Homo sapiens: one gene and its partner. The protein of the gene in region 1 purifies or fractionates together with the protein of each later gene. This does not show direct contact. Each region holds a gene or a part of one and is shown in the gene's direction. Other genes may lie near its edges. The genes, in order: ASB17 and ARF4.

Region 1 (3,826 bases):
GCCTGAGTGACCTTTTAAAAATACAAAATGGCTCATATCAACCATAGTTAAAATCCTCCAGTTTTTCCACTACAGTGATTTTATACAAGGGGTATAACATTCAAACAATACCCCTTTTTTAAAAACCCTACATGAAGCTGGGCACGATGGCTCACGCCTGTAATCCCAGCACTTTGGGAGGCTGAGGCGGGCGGATCACGAGGTCAGGAGATCGAGACCATGGTGAAACCCTGTCTCTACTAAAAATACAAAAAAAAAAAAATTAGCTGGGCGCAGTGGCGGGCGCCTGTAGTCCCAGCTACTCGGGAGGCTGAGGCAGGAGAATGGCGTGAACCCGGAAGGCAGAGCTTGCAATGAGCTGAGGTCGCGCCACTGCACTCCAACCTGGGCGACAGAGCGAGAATCCGTCTCAAAAAAATAAAAAAAAATAAATAAATAAATAAAAAAAAATAAAAACCCTACATGAAAGGTCCCTCTGTATTTCTCCCAAACCCCATCTTGTATTACTCTCCCTTTTGAACACTATATTCCAGCCACAAAGACCTTTCTGTTTCTTGAACATCTTCAAGTTCATTCCTGCCATAAGGCCTCATAATACTGTTCCCTCTGCCTGAAAATTTATTCAATTGGACCTTCCTCCTCATCAGCTAGGTCACAGTATAAATACCATCTTCTCAAAGAGGCCTTTCCTACTCACACAATCTAAAGAAGCCACTCAGTCATTACAGTAGTTTACTTTAATTCTCTGCACCTGCTGATCACTGACCTGTTTATTTACTGTTGTTCCTTTTTCATTGGTTTGCTCACTATCTATCCTCACGGATAGAGTGTGTAGAACTATGTCAGATACGTAGCAACTGCTCAATCAAGATTTTGTTGAATGAGTAAGTGAATTTTGAAGCAGCTTTATTTGATTCTTCTTTCCTGTACTGCACTGAAGTCTTGCATTTCTCCAACCCTGCCCAAGTAGCTATAAAGATCAGTCTGCTAACTCTCTTTTCTAAAAGAAAACTTCTCAAGTATTTGAACACATCTATTATGTCCTCATAATGAATACCCCAAATTTCCTATTATCTGTTGTTCTTTACTTCGACAACATCATTCTTTGGTCATCCTCCCTTGTTTAGACTCTAATTTGATAATTTCCCTATTATATCTCCCTGGAGGAGAGGAGATAGAATTAACGAGGGGAAGAAACTTAAGTTTGTTCATTTTCACCACAAATCTGCAAAAAACATCTAAATGCCACAGTGTGACAGATTGTAGGTGGCTAAAGAGAGATGTCATTCCATTCAAATAACAATAATAAATATTAAGCATTTTTTAAGTGCCAGACACTATGTTATTTATTGGGGATACAAAAACAAAGTAGACACATTTCCTGATTTTAGAGAGCTCATATACTAGTAAGTGAGGCATAAATTTAAACAGCAATTATAGCCACACTCTAGGTACAAAAATAGAAGCATGCACAGGTAGAGAGAGCAGAGAAGGAAATTGTTAACACCATTAGGGAGGAGTAGGTATCTGAGAAGGCTCAATAGAATAGGTGATGTCTTAAACTGATTTTTAAAAGATAACAAAGAGTTTCTTCTTTCTTTCCCTTGAAGACATGTAATCTAGATAGAAGGAGGATTACTGAAACTAAGGGAGATACAAACAACATTGTTGTATCCAATGACTACAAGCAGTTTAGTAATAGCTAGAGAGTGAGATAGGAATCATGTAGTAAGAGAAATGAAGACTGGAATTGAAAGAATGAAGGACTTTGTAGGCCAGAGTGAGGAACATGAAATTTACACCATGGGTAATGCCTGGCCAGTGAAGGTCAATCAACTTGTACAATTAAAAAGATTTATCAGCCCCATTTGAAGATTGGATTTTGGGAAAACAGGCTGCAGCTAGGGCAGGGAAACCAGTTAGTAGACTACTCAAGCACTCCAAGTACAATGTTCTATGTGGGAAGAGTTGGGGGGAAAGTGATCTAATTTTTTTAAAGGGGGGTGGTTAGAGAAGGTCCCTGAGGCTGAATTTGCATAGCATGCATAGTACATGTACTTAGTTTACATGTGTATTTATAATAGTTTTGAGGGGAGAACTAATTCTCTTCTACCAACATCCCTCCCAACCTCTGTTCACCCTTTGATACTACAACTGTCCAGGCAAATTATGAGAACTTAAACTAAAACAGTAGCAGTGGGAGAAAGGAGAGAGATTTTTAGACAGAATTACAAGACACGGTAAGTGATCAGAATTGGAGGATCTAAGAGAAGAAAGAGTTAATCTTCAGATTTCTAAATTTTGAGAGTGGTCGAAAGTTGTATTAGTTTCCTGTTGCTGCTGCAACAAATTACCACAAACTTAGTGGCTTAAAACAACACAAATTTATAGTTTAGTTCTTATAGTTCTGGAGTTCAAAAGTCCAAAATGAGTCTTATAGAGCTAAATCAAATTGTTAGTAGGTCCAGTGCCTTACGGAGGCTCTAGGGAAGAATCTGTTTTCTTGCCTTTGCCAGCTTTCAGAGGCCATCTACATTCCTTGGCTGATAGCCTCTTCATCTTCAAAGCTAGCACTGTAATATCATCATATCTTATTCATTGACTCTGCTTCCAACATTCTCTGCACTTATAAGGACTCTTGCAATTACACTGGGCACACCTAGTTAATTTCCCACCTCAAGATCTTAATCATATCTGCAAAATCCTATTTGCCATACTGAGGGGCCATTATTCAGCCCACCAAAATGGTCATACAAGCTTATCGAGATAAAATATTTTAAAAAACCTATAAAATCAGTTTTAGACATATGAGTTTGCACTGCCTAATGGATATCGAGGTAGAGATGTGCAATACGTGGCTAGATAAACAGTGCCATCCTTAATGTTTCTCTTACATCTCACGTCTATATTGGGATCTGTTGGTTCTACCTGCAAATAATGTACAGCATCTGGCTGTCTCCACTACTATGTTCCAAGCTAAGTGATTTCCTTCCTTCTATAACAAATTCTCAACAAAGGGCAGATCACACTACTCTTCTACTCAAAACCTCCAATGGCTTGTCCTTTTGGTTTAGAGTAAAAGGTGAAGTTCTTACAGTGATCCATAAGGCTCTAAATAATGTGGCATCCCATTACCTCTGTCCTCTTTTCAGCCGCGCTGGTTCCGTTATTCTTCCTTCATCACTCCAGGCACAGTCTCCCGCCATAGGGCCCTGAAATATCCAAATGGTTAACTTCCGCACCTCCTTCTGGTCTTTGTTCAAATGTCATCTTTCAATAATGTACTCTTCCATCATCTTATTTAATATTTAAAAATGCCCTGACCGTACCAGCCCACAGCATATCCATACTTCTTATTCTGCTCTACTTATTCTTTTTTCCAAGCACTCATCACCTGCTAACATAAAATTTGCTTGTTTACTGTGTTCATCCTACATTGTTGTTAATCGTTCACTATAATATAAGCAAGATAGTAAGGATCTTTATTTTGTTTCCTGATATATCCCAAGCACCTAAAACAGTTCCTGGCATATAGTATGCATTCAGTATTTGTTGAAATAAATAAATGGACAGGAATTGAAGTTATGGTCATAAATGAAATTGCCTGGGAATAGCCAAATAAAATTGGTCTAAAGGCCATGCATACTTACTTAGATGTTGAGGGCAGAGGAAGAGGAGCCAGTGAAAGACAGTTGAGGAGAAATAGCCAAAGAGATGAATGGGTAACTTGGAGAGACTAGCCCAACTGAGTAAAAGGAAAACATAGTTTTAAGAAAGTCAACTGTGTGAAATATCACACATGTAAAATTATTCTGGAGAAGCATCT
Region 2 (3,826 bases), on another chromosome or scaffold:
CTTACTTTACAGATATCAAATCTATAGTGCTGTAGTGGTTTTGACCCTAGGAATCTTGGTTCAGATGTTTTGTTCCCAAGGTCATCGGTTCCATTTTCTCTATGCTGTGCCAATAATTACTTCAGAAATGTTTTTTAATAGTAACCATTTAAGGATAAGGAATTCCTTCTGAAAGTAGAGACAAATGTTTGGTTCACAGTGGCATTTTGCAGCCTTCCCATAGATTGGATTAATGTTTTCATGTGTTCATGTTGTTAAATGTACTAAATGGAGGAAGACTGCTGAGAATCCTTGTCATGATTTTAAACTTGTAGCCATAAAATATTTACTGAAATGAAATCTTAATTCTTGTTCATTCCTCCTAAGATTAGAGGGCAGTTTGTAAAACCATTGTGCCAGTATATGTGTAACTAAGTCATTGTTGGATTTTTGCCTGAGTCAAATGTCACCAGCTTTCCCTCTTCAAAAAAAAAAAAAAAAAAAAAAGCTTGGTTGAGACATACTTCACACACTATAAATGTCATCCTTTTTAAATGTGCATATCAATGGCTTTTAGCATACATAGTTGTACAACCATCATCACAATCTAATACTAGAAAATTTTCATCACCCTCAAAGAAATCTTGGACCATTAGCAGTCATTCCCATTTCCTTCCTCTCGTACACCACACTCCCAGCCTCTGACAGCCACTAATTTGTCTTTATACAGTCACCTATTCTGGACATTCATATAAATGAAAACATACAATGTGTTCTTTTGTGACTGATTTTTTCACTTAGCATAATTTTTCAGGGTTCGTCTATATTGCATCATGCATCAGTACAACTTCTGTTCTTGGTACTTTTTTTTTGTATATTTCATGATACTGCCAACACCCAGATAATTGTGTTATTGTCCCACTGTTGTTGGAAAGGATAGAAGTCCGAAAAGAATCATCATCTATCTAAGTACTTCTGCTACTAAGTACCATAAGAACCTGCCATAAACATTTTATTCCCACATGTATTTCTTGCCCTTATCAGTCCTGACAATGGGTAATCATGAAGGCTGAATGATGAGTGATTTGCTTTAATTTAATGGGGTGTAGGATGATTGACTTGGAAAACAGTTCTGTCTTATTTGAAGGCATATGATTGTTTGCTCTGGATTTAAAAACTGAAGGATATGAGACTTCAGTTGTAAGAGTGAACTTTGTGTCGAGAAATTAGGTTAATGTTTAATAATGTATTTAATGCTGAGTAAAGTATATATAGGAAGACATTTTCAAAAATTGGATTCCGGTTGGTAGTTGTTAATGCCTTACCTTTTATTTCCAGCTTCTGGTAGATGAATTGAGAGATGCAGTGCTGCTACTTTTTGCAAACAAACAGGATTTGCCAAATGCTATGGCCATCAGTGAAATGACAGATAAACTAGGGCTTCAGTCTCTTCGTAACAGAACAGTAAGTATTTGGAGGTTGATATTAACCTCTTGACTATTAAGACTTACTAGGATAGTTGTGTAAGCTAATATTCAGTTTAAACATTTATTATCTCCTTTGGACAAATAATGAGCACATCATTTATTTAAAAATATGGTAATAAACTTTAAATACCTTATTTGATTTTTGTAAAGAAACGGAAAACTACTGTAGAATAGGTCTAAAGATTATTGATAGTTTCTTTTTTCTTTTTTTTTTTTTTTGAAGGGAGAGGTGGAAGGAATGGAAAGAAGATTATTGATAGTCTTAATTTTAATTTTGTATCTTTTAAGTAACCCTACAGCAAATATTTTGAAATCTGGCTTTCTTATTAAGGGTCCAGTAATGTTTGTTTGCTTGTTTTAAAAGTGGAGATGGGGGGCTGGGTGCGGTGGCTCATGCCTGTAATCCCAACACTTTGGGAGGCCTAGGTGAGCAGATCATCTGAGGTCGGGAGTTTGAGACCAGCCGGACCAACCAGGGAGAAACCCTGTCTCTACTAAAAATACAAAATTAGCCAGGTGTGGTTGCGCATGCCTGTAATCCCAGCTACTCAGGAAGGCTGAGGCAGGAGAATCACTTGAACCCAGGAGGTGGAGGTTGCGGTGAGTCGCGATCGCGCCACTGCACTCCAGCCTGGGCAACAAGAGCGAAACTCGGTCTCAAAAAAAAAGTGGAGATGGGGGGTCTCGCTTTGTTGCTAGGCTGGTCTTGAACTCCTGGACTCAAGCAATCCTCTCACTATCTCAGCCTACCAAAGCGCTGGGATTCCAGCCATGGTGCCCAGCCTTGTTTGCTTGTTAACATAACAGTTTATGGAGGAGACCAGGTACCACGGCTCACACCCGTAATCCCAATACTTTGGGAACCCAAGGCAGGAGGATTGCTTGAGGCCAGGAGTTCCAAACCAGCCCGGGCAACAAAGTGAAACCCTATCTCTACAAAAATAAAAATTAGCTGGGTGTGGTGGCATGTGCCTTTAGTCCCAGCTACTTGGGAGGCTGAGGTGGGAGGACTGTTTGAACCCAGAAGTTGGAGGCTGCAGAGAGCTGTGATTGTGCCCATTGCACCCCAGCCTGGGTGACAGAGCAAGACTGTTTCTTTAAAAAAAAAAAAAAAAATTTGTACTTCTCTAAAATTGCTTATCATTGATCAGTGATTCAGTGATGGAGATAAATTATCAGAAACTTAGTGTCATAGGCTTTTTACAGTAGTTTTGCATTAACCTGTAAATAAGGGAAATACTGTGGCTGTGGTAAAAAATGAAACAAACAACAAAGAACCTATTGCAGGCCGGGTGCAGTGGCTCACGCCTGTAATCCCAGCACTTTAGGAGGCTGAGGTGGGTGGATCATGAGGTCAGGAATTCAAGACCAACATGGCCAAGATGATGAAACCCCATCTCTACTAAAAACTACAAAAAAATTAGGTGCAGTGGCAGGCATCTGCAAGCCCAGCTACTCTGGAGGCTGAGGCAGGAGAATCACTTGAACCCAGGCAGCAGAGGTTGCAGTGAGCCGAGATCACGCCACTGCACTCCAGCCTGGGTGACAGAGCGAGACTCCGTCTCAAAACAAACAAACAAACAAAAAAAAACAACCTATTGCCTGTTTGAGATATCTCAGGCTGATTTGAAGAACATAAACTGGGCCGGGTGTGGTGGCTCACACCTGTAATCCCAGCACTTTGGGAGGCGAAGGTGGGCGGATCACTTGAGACCAGGAGTTCGAGACCAGCCTGGGCAACATGGTAAAACTCTGTCTCTACTAAAATTACAAAAATTAGCTGGTCGTGGTGGTGCATGTGTGTAACCCCAGCTACTTGGGAGGCTGAAGGCACGAGAATCTCTTGAGCCTGTGAGGCGGAGGTTGTAGTGAGCCGAGATCACGCCACTGCACTCCAGTCTGGGCAAGAGTGAGTACTCTGCCTCAAAACAATCAGTCGATCAATCAATAAATAAGCAAGCAACACTAACTGTAAATGATACAAGTTTTCCATGCTGTGAAGGTATGAATTTGAGCCTTTCCCCAGCCTCCTAGGTTACTGAGATTTGGTATTCAAATAATTGGCAACATGGTATACCTGCAGTGGCCTTGCAACATTAAACTGGTCAAAAAAATTAATAAAAGTAAACTATGCCTTAAATGTAAATTGTTTTCTAGGTTTTTTTTGATACTTTCACACAGTTACTAGAGATAAGATTCGTTGCCATTTAAAAGCAAGAACGTTTTGGAATGCATGAGACTAAAGATGGTGAAATTGTCTGAAAAGCTTGCCCTTAAAATATCAACAAACCCTACTCTTTCTTTCTTTCTTTTTTTTTTTTTTGAGATGGAGTCTTGCTCTGTCACCCAGGCTGGAGTGC

The links.
Region 2: the proteins of ASB17 (region 1) and ARF4 purify together in Homo sapiens (affinity purification with mass spectrometry, with the first as the bait; one large-scale study listed by BioGRID). This does not show direct contact.

What each region holds. Positions count from the first base shown.
Region 1 is NC_000001.11:75,925,828-75,929,653, reverse strand, and holds part of ASB17 (ankyrin repeat and SOCS box protein 17), read left to right. Parts: intron 1-3,826. UniProt on the Homo sapiens protein: May be a substrate-recognition component of a SCF-like ECS (Elongin-Cullin-SOCS-box protein) E3 ubiquitin-protein ligase complex which mediates the ubiquitination and subsequent proteasomal degradation of target proteins.
Region 2 is NC_000003.12:57,573,165-57,576,990, reverse strand, and holds part of ARF4 (ADP-ribosylation factor 4), read left to right. Parts: intron 1-1,317; coding exon 1,318-1,443; intron 1,444-3,826.